Linked DNA regions of Homo sapiens. The protein of the gene in region 1 purifies or fractionates together with the protein of each later gene. This does not show direct contact. Each region holds a gene or a part of one and is shown on either strand. Other genes may lie near its edges.

Region 1 (3,500 bases):
TCCCGGGTTTATGCCATTCTCCTGCCTCAGCCTCCCAAGTAGCTGGGACTACAGGTGCCCGCCACCACGCTCGGCTAATTTTTTGTATTTTCAGTAGAGACGGGGTTTCACCGTGTTAGTCAGGATGGTCTCTATCTCCTGACCTCGTGATCCGCCTGCCTCAGCCTCCCAAAGTGCTGGGATTACAGGCGTGAGCCACTGTGCCCGGCACTCTCAGTCATTATTAAAAATATTGAACACATGCCAAGTCAGAGCCTTGGTATCCGTATTGATACTGATCTGCACTCCCTATCCTAATTTTTACCCCAAGAATAGCTCCTCCATTCAGGGAGGGGTAGACAGGAAAAACAAAACGGGGGCTATGGATCTTTTGACACTTTCTCAGAAATAGTTCACAGACTGGTGTGCATTCCTCCCTTCCTGTCACTTTTCCCATTTGGCCCCTTGCCCAACGTGGCACCCTACATACTAGACTTAGCACTCATGGTAACCTTGGTCCCGCTCTTCTAGGACCCCAACGCAGACACTGAATGGAATGACATCTTACGCAAAAAGGGTATCTTACCCCCCAAGGAAAGTCTGAAAGAATTGGAAGAGGAGGCAGAAGAGGAGCAGCGCATCCTCCAGCAGTCAGTGGGTGAGTTCACTCGCTTTCCTCTGCACCTGTCTGGGTTAGGAGATGGCTCCCTAAGCCTCTGACTGCCCTGCCAGGAGACAGGTTGGAGTGCCAGCATGGACACTCTGTGTCTGTGGGACCTCAGACAAAACACAGGGCGTCTCTCACCTTCACCTTCCTGAGCCATAGACTTAGGGGACTTCAGATATGTCCCACAAGTCCTTGTCCATGTCACATGAGCACTGAAGAAAATACTTCTTTCTGCTTTCTGGTCTGTGATTCCCTTTGATAATGTCATGGAAATTTGTTCAAGGTTTTTAGTACTTGTATTTTCCTGAGCATATACTTTATTTTCTGTGGTTTCATTGAGGATATTAACTAAAAATTGCTTCATTTGGGGAGGCATAAGATGTTTGCAATGTGTGGGAGTCTGAGGGGGGTTTTCTCAAAGGCAGTTGTACTGTCTGAATTGGAGTCCCTTGGAGTGCTGGTAACCCCACCCACCTAGTGTTTACTGAAGCAGTCTCTGGAATGAGGCCCAGGAATCTGCATTTTAAACAAGTGCCTTAAAGGATTCTGATGCGTGTCATAGTTTGAGAAGCACTGGTCCCAGGGACTAGTACTTTTGTCCTCTGTTGACACATTAGAGCTAATTTAGAGAAGGATTTATTAGAAAGTATCCAGCGAGTGCTTACTGCATGATTATCATTGTCAGGTGCTTTTCTGGGGTTGGGGATTTAGCTATGCATAAGCCAGAGACAATTCTCTGCCCTCAGAGAACCAACATTCAAGTGGGGGAGACAGACAATAAACAATAAAGAAAATAAGGCAGTAAAAGGGACTAGAAAGGGTTGGAGGAGAAGCAGGCTCAGAGAGGGCCTCACTGAGATGACATTTGCATGGACCTGAAGGAGGTGAAGCTGGCATTTGGGTAAAGACCTGAAGGAGCTGAAGAACACATTTGAATAGACCTGAGGGAGTTGTTGAGACCTGAAGGAGGTGAAGAAGACATCTGGGTATTCCTGAAGGGGGTGACGTGAGCGAGTGAAATATGGGCCCTGGCATGGCTGGGAATCCCTGAGGAGCTGGAGGCGCTGGGGGAGAGAGTTCAGAGCAGCCTCAGCAGACCCAGAAGCTTCTAGTAAGGACCTTGGCCTTTACACCTAATGAGGCAGGAAGCTTTTGGATGTTTAAACAGAAGAGTGACATTTTCTCTTTTTTGTTTTTTTTTTGAGATGGAGTCTCGCTCTCTTACCCAGGCTGGACTGCAGTGGCGCAATCTTGGCTCACTGCAACCTCCGCCTCCCAGGTTCAAGCGATTCTCCTGCGTCAGCCTCCCGAGTAGCTGGGATTACAGACATGTGCCACCACGCCTAGGTAATTTTTTGTAGCGATGAGGTTTCACCATGTTGGCCAGGCTGGTCTCAAACTCCTGACCTCTAGTGATCCGCCCACCTCAGCCTCCCAAAGAGCTGGGATTATAGGCGTGAGCCACTGCACCCAGCCAAGGGATGCATTAACTTGGAGATCCCTATTAGACAAATAGCCACATTAAGAGGGCCCTTGGGTATGTTTTTCTCTACATTAGAGAAGTCTGGGCTGGAGGCCTATACTTTGGGAGTTGTCAGCATATTGATAGCACTGAAAGCCATGAGATTAGATGCAATCACCGAGGGAGTGGGTGTGGATAAAGAAGAAAAGTAGTCAAAGGTTTGAGCCTGGGGAATTTTAATCAGCAAAGGGTTCAACAGTAGGGCGGCTGGCTCACTCCTGTAATCCCAGCACTTTGAGATGGGCAGATCACTTGAGGTCAGAAGGTTCAAGACCAGCTTGGCCAACATGGTGAAACCCTGTCTCTATTAATGATACAAAAATTAGCTGGGTGTGGTGGCACACGCCTGTAATCCCAGCTACTCAGGAGGCTGAGGCAGGAGAATTGCTTGAATCTGGGAGGCGGAGGTTCTCAGTGAGTCAAGATCGCACCATTGCACTCCAGCCTGGATGACAAGAGTGAAACTCTGTCTCCAAAAAAAGGAAAATAAGCGGGGCAGGGTGAGGCGGAATAGGAGAAGAGAGGGGAGGAGGATCTGAGGGCTTGGGTAAAATGTTGTCAGTCAATAAATTGGGATTACAGGTGTGAGCCACCATGCCTGGCCTCTCAGCTTCTAATGTAGTGTGGTGCCTTAAGTAATTTTTGTTTAGGTAGGCTAAGGATCTGGTGTTGTGTGCATATCTTTAGGAGAAAAGAGAGGGGAAAAAAGAAAAATACATGTTCGTTCATCTTTTTAAATTTTTGCTTTTTGCCAATGTAACCAAATTCAGTGAAAACATATGAAGATATGACTTTGGAAGAGCTGGAGGATCATGAAGACGAGTTTAATGAGGAGGATGAACGTGCTATTGAAATGTACAGGTAAGCGCCACCCAGAGGGGCTGTTTGTTTTTTTGTTGTTGTTTGTTTTGTTTTGGTTTTTTTTTTGGCGTGGCAATAAAATGTGTGGGCTGAGCATGGTGACTCATACCTGTAGTCCCAACACTTTGGGAGGCTGAGGCAGGCAGATCGCTTGAGCTCAGAAGTTTGAGACCAGCCTGTGAAACCCCGTCTCTATAAATAATACAAAAACTAGCTGGGTGTGGTGGTGAACGGCTATAGTTCCAGCTACTCAGGAGCCCTGGAAGTGGAGGTTGCAGTGAGCTGAGACTGTGCCACTGCACTCCAGCCTGTGTGACAGAGCCAAACTCTGTCTCAAAAAATAAAATGAAATGTGTGTCCTTCAAAAAATTAATTTTCAGCTGAAACATCTAGGAGCGACTGCAATTAAATAATATTGTGAATTTTAGCAAACTGATCTTAGATTTTTGCCATAAGACCAATAAATAAACC
Region 2 (3,492 bases), on another chromosome or scaffold:
GTCCCTTTGGGAGTGGGAATGGAAGACGCCCCTCTGCACGTCACTTAGTAACTGGGTGGCTATGAAGGCCAGGCTCAAGACAGACTCTACATGTCAAGGGCTTAAAGGAACAAAGATAGGCCTCCTGGAAACTAGTGAGGGGAGGCTCCTATATTTCCTTCTCGCTCTGGCATTTTCCAGCCAAGAGGTCTTTGGCATCAGTACATGGATTTATTTGCTCATGGAAACGTCTTCCTAGCAATGGGGGTTCAAGGGAGTGGTAACTCACCCTACACTGCACCCAGGTGTGGTGAAGGATGGCACTAACCATCCCACTTCCTAATCTCATACTGATGTGGGACAATCCCTTAGGAGCTTCCTCCCCTCTAGCGGGAGGGAGCAAAGTTCTGGCTGCCTCCTCTGCAGGAGACAGGGCCACTCATGCTCAGGAGCTCTGCTGCTCCAGAGAGAGGGTGTAAGGCTGGGGTGTCCAGTCTTTTGGCTTCCCTGGGCCACATTGGAAGAAGAATTGTCTTGGGCCACACATAATATACACTAACACTAATGACAGCTGCTGAGCTAAAAAAAAAAATTGCAAAAGAATCTCATAATGTTTTAAGAAAGTTTACGACTTTGTGTTGGGCCTTACTGAAAGCCATCCTGGGCCACGTGCAGCCCATGGGCCAGGGGTTGGACAAGCTTGGTGTAAAGGGACTGGCCTGCCAGACTCCAGACCCTGATGGAGAATTCTGGTTGGGCCCAGAGCTTTTGTGGACCTAAGGGGACCGAAGAAAGAAGGCAGGCCACCTACCTCAATGGTGCTGCCATCAGGCAGGTAGTACTGAGCTTTCTCTGTCTCTAGCGTCTCATCCTTTTGGGGGTTTATGGATAGGTAACAGGCTCTCTGCAGATCCAAGCAAGACAGTCAGGCTGGCAGGAAATCTGGTGCACATCCAGTCAAAGGCCCAGGGGAGGAATGTGCTGCTGCACAAACCTGTCTAAACGTTGTGATGGCCCCAATGGTCACTATAGCTGCTGCCCAGAAGCAGGGGCAGTGAGGTCTCTGTTGGCCTTCACTGGGTGGCATTTAGCATATGAGTTCTTAACCGCTCCACCTTCCTGATGGGCAAGCTTGGAAACTTGGCCCCTGGATCCTAGGTCTGAGACCACAACCTAAGTTCAGCCCAGGCCCAGGCATCTTTCTCCTTCTACCACTCATATGGTTCTGGTCCTACCCAGCTCGAGTTTTCCCTATAGCCACAGGTGGCAGGAGGTTTCAGTTTACTTACAAAGACAAATGTTTTAAATGTATTATGACTTCTTCAAGGATGTTAAAAAAATAAAAATAAAAAAACCAGGAGTGGGCGCGGTAGCTCATGCTGCAATTCTAGCACTTTGGGAGGCTGAGGCGGGCAGATCACTTGTGGTCAGGAGTTTGAGACCAGCCTGATCAACATGGTGAAACCATGTCTCTGCTAAAAATACAAAAATTAGTGGGGTGTGGTGGCAGGCACCTATAATCCCAGCTACTTGGGAGGCTGAGGCAGGATTCAAGCGATTGCTTGAACCCGGGAGGCAGAGGTTACAGTGAGCCGAGATCACACCATTGCACTGCAGCCTGGGCGACAGAGCGAGACTCCATCTCAGAAACAAAACAAAATGAAACAAAACCAAACCCTATGTAATTTGCATATAAGGTATAAAAAACATACTGAGCCCCTATGTAGCCATCACCCAACTGAAGAAATGGAAGCAGCTCCCTTTCCCCCAACAAGATGGCAGCACGTCAGGAAGGCGAATCTGTCAGTGTGACGTAGGGGAGACCTGGCTGGGAAGAACAAGGCCTCACCAGGGACCCCCAGGCAGGTGCTTTGCCTGGCTTCACTGGCAGGTCACCAAGGTCCTGGGTGCTATGCTCCCAACCCCCACTCCATCCCTAGGCCCAGGGGGCAGCACTTACTTCTTTTATGGCCTTGACAATCTCAAACTCAGAGGATGAGTGGAAGTCGTAGCCCTCCTTACGCAGGTAGAGGCGCAGGAAGCGAGAGACGTCCCGGCCCGCGATGTCGATGCGCATGATGGAGTGGGGCATGGCAAAGCCCTCATAGATGGGCACAGCATGGGTGACTCCATCCCCAGAATCCAGCACCACCCCTGTGGTCCTGCCTGTAGCGTAACTGAAGCAAAGGGGCAAACCGTCACTCAGCACTGCCTCCTCACGCTGGGAAGAAATACACTTCTTTATTTAGGGTTCAATGTCAGCTAAACTAAAGCTTGGGCCTGCCTCTCTCCAGGGTCTGTAGAATGGACTGGGTACTAAGGAAGCCCAGGTGTTGGAGCAAGCCATGAAATACCTGAACGGAAGTTGCTGATCTTCTCCAAGTTCCCTCCCCGTACCCAGAAGAGCAGGCCTTCCTGTCTGAGATGGCCTGGCCTTCAGCTGCTTCAGAGACCCAGCCTAGGGGCCAGTTTTAACTCTCTAGACAAAAGGCAAAAACCCTCAAATGTCAACAGGGGCCAGGCAGGAAAAGTAAGAGTAAAGAAAAATAAGAATATTTTTCACTTCCATAAAAAACAAAGGCAGGAGAAGACCCTGCTTTACTGGTTTGAGAGCCCGGGGACCTTTGTCAGCCTCCCTCCAAAAAAAGGCAAGTGAGGCAACTGACCCCCTGCTTCAGTGCGGAGAGGCCAACAGAGCATGGACAGGCTGTGGGGAGGGTGGGCTTGCCAGCCCCATCTCAAGTGGCAGCCGCTCTTCAGCTCCAGCTGATTTTTGCCCTGTGGGAATGTGTGCCCGACCTTCCCAGATCTTCCCATTTTTTCAGAGAAGCCAAAAATTTGGGTTTTGATGGGACACCTCTTGATTTTTAAATGCTGGCTCACAGTTTGTTAATGGGGTCAAATAAATCCCACGTGTAGGTCACTTGTGGATAATCTCTGCCGTAGACCTCACTCTGGTGTGAGGTGGGGTAGGAGTGTGACAGGAGCCACGGGGGATGGGAACAAGGACTGTGGTGGCATTCGGATCATGGTTGTCTCACAGCCTGGCAGAGCAGCTGGCCACAGTAAGTGCTGAATAATAAGTGGACACATTACGGGGGCCTCCGGGAAGAGCTGCTGCAGCATGTGGCTGCCTCGGCAGGCCCAGCCAAGGCCTTGGGGACCAAACCCACTAGGAGTCCTGACACTGGGATATGGTCAATAGCAGCCACATGTCCTTCTTTGCTTTCAACTACGAAGCCTCAGTGCTCAGTTTCAGCAAAAGCCTCTCTCTCTTTCCCACCATCTTTAACCTTTCCCTAGCAGAGGGGGCTCAAGTTACTCTGAACCATTCCAGAGGAGAGCCAGCCTCAGCTGTGCCAAAGGACTGCTTTCCCCGCAGGGGCCGGGCTAGCCAGCTGCTACTCACAGGCTGAGTACAGCTTGCATGGAGATGAAAAGAGCGGGCACATTGAAGGTCTCGAAGAAAACTTCGGCAGCTCGTTCCCGGTTTTTTCGTGGGTTTAAAGGCGC

What was found. The genes of interacting proteins can lie anywhere in the genome.
Region 2: the proteins of PDCL3 (region 1) and ACTR1A purify together in Homo sapiens (co-immunoprecipitation; 2 studies listed by BioGRID and IntAct, with this or other methods). This does not show direct contact.

What each region holds. Positions count from the first base shown.
Region 1 is NC_000002.12:100,565,993-100,569,492, forward strand, and holds part of PDCL3 (phosducin-like protein 3), read left to right. Parts: intron 1-510; coding exon 511-637; intron 638-2,938; coding exon 2,939-3,029; intron 3,030-3,500. UniProt on the Homo sapiens protein: Acts as a chaperone for the angiogenic VEGF receptor KDR/VEGFR2, increasing its abundance by inhibiting its ubiquitination and degradation.
Region 2 is NC_000010.11:102,482,221-102,485,712, forward strand, and holds part of ACTR1A (alpha-centractin), read right to left. Parts: coding exon 3,389-3,492; intron 2,157-3,388; coding exon 1,940-2,156; intron 884-1,939; coding exon 791-883; intron 1-790. UniProt on the Homo sapiens protein: Part of the ACTR1A/ACTB filament around which the dynactin complex is built. The dynactin multiprotein complex activates the molecular motor dynein for ultra-processive transport along microtubules.